Homo sapiens: one gene and its partners. The protein of the gene in region 2 purifies or fractionates together with the protein of the main gene of each other region. This does not show direct contact. Each region holds a gene or a part of one and is shown on either strand. Other genes may lie near its edges.

What was found.
Region 1: the proteins of SLC44A5 (region 2) and SLC12A6 purify together in Homo sapiens (affinity purification with mass spectrometry; one large-scale study listed by BioGRID and IntAct). This does not show direct contact.
Region 3: the proteins of SLC44A5 (region 2) and CNNM1 purify together in Homo sapiens (affinity purification with mass spectrometry; one large-scale study listed by BioGRID and IntAct). This does not show direct contact.

Annotation. Positions count from the first base shown.
Region 1 is NC_000015.10:34,233,282-34,236,854, forward strand, and holds part of SLC12A6 (solute carrier family 12 member 6), read right to left. Parts: intron 3,535-3,573; coding exon 3,427-3,534; intron 2,919-3,426; coding exon 2,734-2,918; intron 2,034-2,733; coding exon 1,900-2,033; intron 692-1,899; coding exon 600-691; 3' UTR 1-599.
Region 2 is NC_000001.11:75,604,523-75,608,218, forward strand, and holds part of SLC44A5 (choline transporter-like protein 5), read right to left. Parts: intron 1-3,696.
Region 3 is NC_000010.11:99,384,831-99,388,526, forward strand, and holds part of CNNM1 (metal transporter CNNM1), read left to right. Parts: intron 1-2,989; coding exon 2,990-3,173; intron 3,174-3,321; coding exon 3,322-3,471; intron 3,472-3,696. UniProt on the Homo sapiens protein: Probable metal transporter.

The DNA of each region.
Region 1 (3,573 bases), on a different chromosome or scaffold from region 2:
TTGGGGGGATGTTTTTGAAGAAGTAGAGGCTGCAGCCATGTTTCAAGTTAGTATCCTAATATAAAATTACAGCAGTGGGTATACTAAAGAAATATAGCTAAAAAATGTTTGCATCTTGGCTTGCCGAGGATAATAGGTCCAAATATACTTGACCATAAATTCTTTAGTAAGATGAAGCTGTCTCTAGTTGTTATCCTCACAGTGTCAACATTGAACCATGACTTCTGAGATTCATCTTTAATGCTGAATACGTACTTGACTTGCTTTTTTTCTTCAGTTGAATTTCTAGCATCCCTTTTACCAATTCATTTATTGGCTCAGCTTGTTAATTCTAATTTGCCTTTGACTGCTCAGACGTGGCTTGAAAGACTTGAGCATTGTTCTGATGTTGAGGGAATATTTGCTTTTTCTGTAATGACTGCAGATCAGATGGGAGCTCTTTTACACAGGTACTTGAGGCTCAGCTCATCAAGAGTTCAGTATGATGTGTACAGAACACAGGCTTCTAGTTGAGTGGGAGTGGTAGTAATGAGCTGGCACTTCCATGGAGGACGTAGGCCTTTTAAGAAAACAGGTCAAGCACGGTCATTCAGAGTAGGTTATGAATAAATGGTGATCACTTCACTGCCACCACCCCGGACAAGTAGGACTCGCTCTAGTCCCTCGGTAAGCACCTCTAGGAACTCCATGTCTTCAAAACTTGTCAAGGAGACAGGCAAAAGAAGAGCACAAACTTAAAACCTGGCATCATCATAATCTGAGGTTATCTGATCATAGAGCTACAAAATTAGCTGCTTAATTATTATATATTCAGAAAAGTCTGAACTTTGGATTGAATTTAACCCTGTGAAGTAACCAGAGATCCAGTCCTTTTGCATACATAATACCAGACTCCCATTTGTGTATTTAAAAAATGGGAAAACCTAGAAGTGTTACTCTAAATAAGATAAAAATGATGAAAGAAGAAGAAAAGCCACAATAGGGCAGCTAACAAGATTCCTAGAGAGAACCCAAGTAATTTCTAAGTGAAGCTGCTCAAGTCAGATTTTTCTGCCAGTTCGGTTTGTCTTTTTCTTTTTAAACCTTTTTCTTTTCTTTCTTTTTTTTTTGAGACAGAATTTCCTCTTGTTGCCCAGGCTGGAGTGCAATGGTGCGATCTTGGCTCACTGCAACCTCCACCTCCTGGTTCAAGTGATTCTCCTGCCTCAGCCTCCCGAGTAGCTGGGATTACAGGCACCTGCTACCACACCCAGCTAACTTTTCTATTTTTAGTGGAGACGGGGTTTCACCATGTTGGCCAGGCTGGTCTCGAACTCCTGACCTCAGGTGATCCACCTGCCTTAGCCTCCCAAAGTGCTGGGATTACAGGCATGAGCCACCACACCTGGCCTAAACCTCTTCTTTCTTAATGGTACTGGTGGGAATAAGCTAATTTATGTGTCAATGCTGAAGGGTTTCCCGTATCCCAGGAGTCCTGGGATGAAGGTATGAGGAAGAATCCCTATCTCTTTTTTCCCCTCAGTTAAAGGAGGTTCTATCTCAGCTTCTCCCCTAACTCTATCCAAAAGAAAGGCTTTGCAAAGCGGGTAGAACCTAAAAAGGCGAAAGGATGTGGGTATGCTGTCTGTAGGATTGTCAGGAAGGGTTTTATACACTGAATATTAGATGTCATGTTGCAAATACACCACCTAAAACTAGAACTGAATTATATTTGCCCCAACTCCCCTAAAAGAGTTTAATCTTATAACTTTGTAAAAATCCTTGCCTAGGACTTTTAAGTCTCCCTTCCTTAAAGAGGGAAAGTGGGGCATAGACAATGACTTTTATTGTTACCTAGTTATCTCAGAAAGAGGTTAAGGAGATTTTCCCTACTGGAAGCCCCACTCTTGGAAAGGATACAGTTTTCATCACCCTCAGGGTTTCGGGGTGGCCCTGGCATATTCAATAAAACCAGCTTTGCTTCATGGGACTTGTTAACTATAACCTCGTTGAGTTTCACTGCTGTATGCATCCGCCTCACATTGGACTGGTCCCTGAGTGGGGAAGAAATAAAGGTTGTTAAGGTAAAAAGACAACTAGCCATAAAGTCAACGTTAAAAACTTGAGATCCTGAGCTTTTTCACTTGACTATGGATAATCTGATAAAATGATTTTTTTTTTTTTTTTTTTTGAGAGGGAGTTTCGCTCATGTCACCCAGGCTGGAGTGCAATGGTACAATCTCAGCTCACAGCAACCTCCGCCTCCCAGGTTCAAGTGATTCTCCTGCCTCAGCCTCCCGAGTAGCTGGGATTACAGGCCCCCACCACCATACCCGGCTAATTTTTTTTGTATTTTTAGTAAAAACAGGGTTTCACCATGTTGGGCAGGCTGGTCTCGAACTCCTGACCTCAGGTGATCCACCCGCCTCTGCCTCCCAAAGTGCTGGGATTACAGGCGTGAGCCACTGTGCCCAGGCTAAAATGGTTTCTTTATGATATTAATATCTGGGTTTTCTCATTCTCTGTTGGCTTATTTTATAGTAAGAACACAGTATGGAGGTGAACTATGTGGATAGAGGGGATGGTTAGCTTGTGTACAGTGTTCATTGGGAGCCAGTATGAACAGGCAAACAATAATGAGGTGGCTAGATTCAGGGTGAAATGAACAGACTCCATCCTGTGTGTCCAGGCAAAGTCACATTTGTGCCACTGATTAGGTAATTTTATGATAAACTTGGGAGTGGGAAAACTTACGGACGCATGTTAAGCAGGTCCTGGAATCCTTCCATTGACTTCGCTTTTTGTCCCCGGGATGCCATGTACTTGTCTTTTGTCCAAGTCATGTGCACCTTCTCCTGATAGGTTTCTGTCTCTTCGTCCTCATCAGAGCCAATGCTGGTCAATCGTAGCATTGAGTTTCGGTCTTTCACCAATTGTGCCTGAGGAAGAAGGTCCAACACAAGTTATTCTACCAAATTTTCTCTTATGCTTCATCTTTGGTTATTTTGAAGCAGTAATGGGTTATAGTGGAATAACTGACAGAGTGAGAAGGAATTTGTCATCCTTGAAAACAATATAGTATCATCCCTTTTTTTTTTGGTTTGAGACAGAGTCTTCCTCTGTCACGCAGGCTGGAGTGCAGTGGCGTGATCTTGGCTCACTGCAACCTCCGCCTCCTGGGTTTAAGCACTTCTCTGCCTCAGCCTCCTGAGTAGCTGGGATTACAGGCATGTGCCACCATGCCCGGCTAATTTTCGTACTTTAGTACAGATGGGGTTTCACCATCTTGGCCAGGCTGGTCTTGAACTCCTGACCTCTTGATCCACCCGCCTCGGCCTCCAAAAGTGCTGGGATTACAGGCGTGAGCCACCATGCCCAGCCCAGTATCATCCCTTTCAGTGACAGACTTTAGAGAGCACGGATTGGATTGATGCAGTAATGTCTCACCTCTCTGTCTCGCTCTGTTTTGGATAGCCGCATGTGCCGGAGCATCTGGGACCTTTGTTCCATCATCAAAGTGCGCTCGTAAGTATATGCTGATATATCACTGTCATGCTGCCATAGACATCACATAAAAGGGGCAAAAAGCACAAA
Region 2 (3,696 bases):
TGAATTTTAGAATAGTTTTTTCTGATTCTGTGAAAAATGCCATTGGTAGCTTCATAGAAATAGCATTGAATCTGTAGATTGCTTTGGGGAGTTTGACCATTTTATTATTCTTCCAATCCATGATCATGGAATGTTTTTCCATTTGTTTCTGTCATCTATGATTTATTTCAGCAGCGTTTTGTAGTTTTCTTTGTAGAGACCTTTTACTTCCTTGGTTAGAGGTGAAACCAAGGGGTGTGTGTGTATGTGTGTGTGTACTGTAAATTAGGCTATGTTCTTCATTTGGCTCTCAGCTTGAACATTATTGGTGTAAAGATATGGTACTGATTTTTGTACATTGATTTTGTATCCTGACACTTTACTGAAGTCATTTTTCAGTTCCAAAAGTCTTTGGCAGTCTTTAGGGATTCCTAGGAGAGATAGTTTGACTTCTTCTTTTCCTATTTGGATGCCTTTTCTTTCTTTCTCTTGCCTGATTGCTCTGGCTTGCACTTCCGGTACTGTGTTCAACAGGAGTGGGAAGAGTGGGCATCCTTGTCTTGTTCCAGTTCTCAAGGGGGATGCTTCCTAAAATGTCAATTTGAAAGCCTGATTTTTGTCTTTGACTTTGAACACTGAAAGACAATCCAGAGAACTAGCAAATTTACATTTAAAAACCTGCCTTTTAAGTTTTTAAAAACTATGAATTTAAAATTGCTTCTTTTAAAATTGGGTTTTAAATTTTTGATTCTACAAGAAAATTTTCATTCAACAAGCACTTAGGACCTGTTCTGAGTTTCTTCAGAGCCTTTCTTAAAAGATAAGGCACATATTGAAGGTAGAGTTATTAAGAATGAGAAGGTGGAGAAAAAATAAAAATAAATAAATAAACAATGCAGCTCTCATCCAAAATCCTAATGGCCCAAAAAAGCTACAAAAAAAGATGCCTGAGAGGCCACCCCTCCTTTCATATTAAAAAGCTATAGTGATTTGTAGAGTCAGAGCTTAACAAATCACCCTATTCTTCATCCTTTCCTTCACTAAGTTGTCAGACAGATGCAGAATAGAAATCAGCAATGTGAAATTGTGGTTTCTCAACTGAATGAGGAATTTTTCACCATGACTTTAATGTTCCTCTGTCATGGGCCCTAATGGGAAACTACCAAAAGTTATAAAATTCGATTATACTATGGGAATCCACAGAAGGGGGTAAAGAGAAAGCAAAGGCAAAAAAGAAATGTCTTTATTTTGAACCCTAATCATTTATTTAAAAGCTGTGTCTCATCTAAACACAGAACAATGGGATAGGGAAAGCTCCTGCTTCCGGATCCCTTTTTCAGAAGCAGCTTCCTAGCTTCTCTCTGGAAGAAAGGAAAGATGATAGGGCTAGCCCATAGCTTCTCAGCCTTGGCAACATTGACAATTTGCACTAGGTAATCTTTTGTTGTGAGGAGGTACATTATAGAATGTTAGTAGCATCCCTGGTCTCTACCCACTGGATGCCACCAGCGCCACTCCAGTCATGACAATCAAAATATCTCCAGACACTGTAAAATTGCCCCTGGTTGAGAAGCATTAGGCTAGTTCCCGCACAATTTTTTTTTTTAATTTTTCTTTAGTTCTTTAAGATCCTTTCAAGTGAGGGAATGGACTGCCACAGTCAGCAACAAGATGACTGGCAAACTCTTGTCTTCTGGAAACTTTTTCCTACTATGGCATATTTTATTATTTTGTCAGAAAATCCATTTCTATACCTCTCTTAATACTCCATTTAATATTTCTTAAAGATAATACATTTAAAGACGTAAAAGAAGATAAAAGAGAAACATCCTTAGAACTAGGCAACATAAGACCATTCTACATTAATTCATCTTACCTCCATAGGAAACTGTCATAAAAAGCACCCAAAATTTAAAATAGTAAAAGAGAGGTTAAAACCCACCTCAATACACAGATAGTAACAAACAACAAGGAATAAAACCCACTATTATTCTTCCATCTTAAAAAAGCAAATCTTTTTTCAACTCCACAACTCCCATCCCCAGCCATATCATTTCTTTGCTCCCTTTAAAGCAAAACCCTTCAAAACAGTTAACTGTGCTGTCTTTAATTTTCCTCCTCTTCATTCTCTCTTAACCCACTTCACTCAAAGCATCATTGCCACCACTTCACCTGGGCTGTCTTTGACTTTCATATTAATTAATTAAGGTCTTCAATGACTTTCATATTAATAAATACAATGGCCATTTCTCAACCCTGATCTTACCTGACCTATGGGCAGCGTTTGACACTGTTGATTATCATTTTCCTCCTTGATACACTTTCTTCCTTGGTTCCAAGACCCCACACCCACTTCTTAGTCACCAGTTGCTCTTTCTCAATCTCCTTTACTGACTCCTCCCCTTCTCACTTATCTCTTAATAATGGAGCAGCCCTGGGCTCAGATCATTTCTCTCAATCTATACTCAATTCCCAGTGAGTCTTCCAGTCTGTGATCTTAAATACCACCAATGTTCTGATGAATTCCAAATTCATATGATCAGCCCAAGCCTCTCTCCAAGACTCCAGACTTACATATCCAGCTTCCTACTTGTCATCTTCACTTGTATATCAAATAAATATTTCAAACCCAAATGTGTCCAAAACTAAACTTCTGATCCTTCCCCATAAACTTGCCCCTTCTACAATCTTCAAATAGTAGTTGATGCCAAGTCCACCTTCTCTTAGTTGTTTAGGTCAAAAACTGTGCATTAATCCATCACTCCTTTCTTTCTCTCACATGAAACATCCTGTTAGTTTTTAAAATTATATAAGTTCTACCTTAAAAATATATTCAGTATCCTTCCATTTCTCATGTTCACCACTGCTTCTACCCTGATAGATGCCACTATCATCTCTCAACTGAATTATTTTTTATAAGCAACTTTTTATTTTAAAATATTAATTGACAAATAAAGACTGTATGTATTCAAAGTGTACAACATGATGATTTGGTATATGTACACGTTGTATAATAAATAATTATTACAACCAAATTTAATAACACATCTGACATAGTTTGGGCTGTGTCCCCACCCAAATCTCATCTTGAATTGTAACTCCCATAATTCCCACATGTCATGGGAGGGACCCAGTGGGAGGTAATTGAATCATGGGGGTGGGTCTTTGCCATGCTGTTTTCATGATAGTAAGTCTCATGAGATCTGATGGTTTTATAAAGGGGAGTTCCCCTGTACATGCTATCTTGCATGCTGCCATGTAAGATGTGACTTTGTTCCTCATTCACCTTCTGCCATGATGGTGAGGCCTCACCAGCCATGTGGAACTGTGAGTCAATTAAACCTCTTTCCTTTATAAGTTACCCAATCTTGGGTATGTCTTCATTAGCAGCATGAAAACAAACTAATACAATATCCATCACTATCTATGCTGTATATTATGTCCCCAGAACTTGTCTTATAACTGTAAGTTTGTACTGTTTGACTAGTATCTCCTCACTTCTCCCACTCCCCCAGCCTTTGGCAACCACCATTCTACTCACTGCTTCTATGAGTTCAATAATTTTGGATTCCACATATAAGTGAGATCATACAGTATTTTTCTTTTTGTGCCTGGTTGATTTCACTTAGTATAAAGTCCTCCAGGTTTATCCATGTTGTTGTAAGTCAATAGCAAAAACAAAACAAAACAAAACAAAAAACAAAAAAAAACAAATAA
Region 3 (3,696 bases), on a different chromosome or scaffold from region 2:
TGAGGAGGGTGATGTCACCTGAGGTCGGTAGTTCAAAATCAGCCTGACCAATATGGTGAAACCCCGTATCTATTAAAAATACAAAAAAATAAGCTGGGCGTCGTGGTGTGCACCTATAGTCCCATCTACTCAGGAGCCTGAAACGAGAATTGCTTGAATCTGGGAGGCAAAGGTTGCACCACTGCACTCCAGCCTGGGCAAGACAGAGCGAGACTCCATCTCAAAAAAAAAAAAAAATTAAAAAAAGAGTGGTACAACTCACTGAAGATAAAATCTGGGCAGAACTTTTCCAAAAATAAATTAGTTAAATAATATAGAGCATTTTGCAACAGTAGTCATTCCCAAGAGACTTCCAGCCTGGGGGACGCAGCCAGTCTACCAACTTATAGGGGCCCTGAGCCAGGAAATCCATTTCAAAGCCTACTGAAACAGCCCCTTCCTTCTCTCTTCCTCCTCTCCTTTCTTCACTCACTGTCCCTTTCCTTCTGTCCCGCTTCTCCACTGTCCATAGTCGGAATTGCCTTCCTTCCCCTACTTTCCCTTTTGCTTTATTTTCTTGATTAAGGATTTATTTTTCCAAGACCTAGTCTTGCTTTCACAGAATCTCCAGTCACACTGACTTTGGGGGCAGAGAGGACACTGCTCCTTCCCCCACCTCCACCCTGTGTGTGGCATCAGCAATTTAGACATAATGAGATGGTAAGCTTGACAGCTGTCTTTGAAATGTATGCCCATTATAAAGTCAAATGGTGAGACATGCATGTGGGCATGTTTTAAACAACCATTCCTAACAGTTTCATATAATGGATTCACTCATGTTATCTCATTATCTCTGGGCCTCTTTTATAAGATCAGAGAGGTTAACAATGTGGCCAGTGTATTCATTTGCCCATTGGCTGATTAAAAATGTATATGTATTTGGCCAAGGTCTCCCAGCTTGAAAGTGGCAAAATTGGGACTTGAACTTCAGTTCTTGGCACTGTGTTTCCTGCCATATTTCTTAGGTGAAGGGACATTTGGCCTTTGACTAAACTAGAAGCCAAATCTAAATAACTAAAGAACCCAAACAGAGTAAGATCAACTGCTTTACTGGGCTTACCAAGTGTCATTTAGGGAATTTTCCCATCCTTTGGTGTTAGAGCCAAATTTCCTCATCTTTGGGGGAAATTTTGGAACGTGACTTCTCACTTCCCAACAGAGGGAATTGCAAAAGTCAGGTGTTTTCAACAAGAACATTGAATCGATTGAAGACTTTGGATAAATGCTAAGTGGAGACCTGTGGTTCCATGCCATAAAGCATGGAATATACCATTTTGACCTGAAAAATATCGAAGCCAGTTGTTAACACTTTGCTGCTTTGTCCTGTAAAATCCTTTAGAAGAAAAAAACCAAAACCTGAGTAGTACCTGTAACTAATTTTAACTAGGTCTTAAGTCAGCAGTTCTCAAAGTGTGATCTCCAGACTAGCAGCACCAGGAACACAGGAACTTGCTAAAAATGCAAATTCTCAGTCTCCACCCCAGACCTAGTAAATTAGAAACTCTGAGAGTTAAACCCAAAAATCTTGTTTTAACAAGTCCTTCAGATAATTCTGATGCTGAGGTTTGAGAATCACTGATTTAAACCATCAAGAGAAAACTCTATTTGCCCACTCAAATGGGCAGTAGTATAACTAGAAGCCTGGAATCTCTGCATGTATGTGTCCCATATGCTCTGCAAAAAGGCACGTATTCTTAACTGGTGTTTTGTGATTCGATTGGTTGTGCTTAGAATTTGCTTGGTTCTCTTGCAAAATATCCTGAAGTTGGTTAAAGAAAGGATTGATCGTGTCCAGTAAAATAATGCGTCTTGTCAGTAGTTGACAAGGAGCCACTGTTGAGACCTTGCCGGATACAAAGCCAACTTCAAGCCTACTCTCTTTCCCAACATGTCAGCCTTAACCATCCCCTCTCCTATTTCCAGCAGAAATCTTTTCTCTTTCAACGTGTAATACCAATTCTGCCCCAAAGGAAAGAGAAGGCAAAATGAGCAGAATTTGTGGTTTTGTCCGTTCACTAGCGCTAATGCAGTGAAGGAGGGATGAAAACGCTTTAGGAGATGGTATGATTGGGAAGGATATTATGCCATGTACCATTTCCCTTCTTCCCCCAGTGCCAGCCGCTGATGAGTGGTTTCACATTCCTGTACTGGGTGGCACACAACCTAGTCTGTTTTCACTGCTAGCAAGGATTCACAGTGCCAGTCTGTTATGTACACCCAGAGAACAGGGGTGACAGAGACACCCTCCTGCCTTTTAGAAGAGATATTTGATCCATATTTTTCCTGCCTGGAATCGTGGAGACTCCTGTCTGGTCTGGCTGCAGCCTGACCCTCCGGATGCCTTCAGTTGTGGGTGTTTGACACATCAGGAAAGTCACAAGTCTGACTCCTGTGATTTGAGGAGACAGCTGGGAAACCTCCCTGCTGTGGTCCCAGCCAGCATAGGAGCATGACCCTACATCCAGGGATGGGCTTAGTCCAAATCAGAAATGCCTGTGTTCTCTCAGGCCTTAGCCTCCAGCTTCCCGACACTGAGACCTAGGGCATGAGAGCTTCCCTGCTGGAGTCCTACCTTATTCTCACCAAGTCACCCCCGACTGACCCTTTGGGCCTTTGGCAATAGTATAAATGGGTGTTTTAAACTTCTCCATGGGCAACCACCCTGCTCTCAGAAGATGCCCTCCATCCTCTCCAGGGTCTCAGAAGGCTTGGCTCTTCCAGGTGCCAATAAAAATGAACAGTGGGAGCTGGTGGCAGACCAGCAAAGGGCCGCCTCACTGTCCCTGCTGGACTGCTACAGCGTGGGTAAGGCCCCCATTCGTGGATCTCAGGCCTCAGAGGCCGAGGGTTCCAAGCACCCCAGCGAGGCTGCCCCCGAGCCTGGGAAGGCTGGCTGCATCCGGGTGGTCTCTGCCTAGCTGCTCCTAAGCTCCTGCCCTCTTCCTTCCAGATCACACGGCAGCAATATCAGAACGCACTCACTGCCTGCCACATGGACAGCTCACCTCAGTCCCCTGACATGGAGGCCTTCACAGACGGGGACTCCACTAAGGCCCCCACAACCCGGGGCACACCCCAGACCCCTAAGGATGACCCCGCCATCACGCTCCTCAACAACAGGAACAGCCTGCCGTGTAAGTCAGCTGGGCAGACGGGCAGGCTGGGCTGGTGTGGGGTGAGGATGACCCTGCCTTCCTCTTCTAGCCCTTCCCAGGGCTCACACCACCTGAGCCCTGGGTCTTCTCCAAAGCAGAGAGGTGATGCACTCACTGTCCTCCCCAGGCAGCCGCTCAGACGGGCTGAGAAGCCCCAGCGAGGTAGTGTACCTGAGGATGGAGGAGCTGGCCTTCACCCAGGAAGAAATGACTGACTTCGAGGAGCACAGCACACAGCAGCTCACGCTGTCTCCTGCAGCCGTTCCCACGAGAGCAGGTCAGGGAGGCCAGCTGGGCCCAGTGCAGCAAGGGAGATCATTGCCTTTGGGCACTGGGATGGCCCAGGGAAAGCTGGCTGAGGGGAGCCCTGGGACCGCAGCCCGTGCGTTAAACCTCCGACCTCCTTACACAGCCAGGGAAAGGAAACATTTACTGAGCATCTACCATGCATCAGGCCCTGTCTGATTCATTCTCCTAGGAAAACTGTGTAGGGCAGTATTAG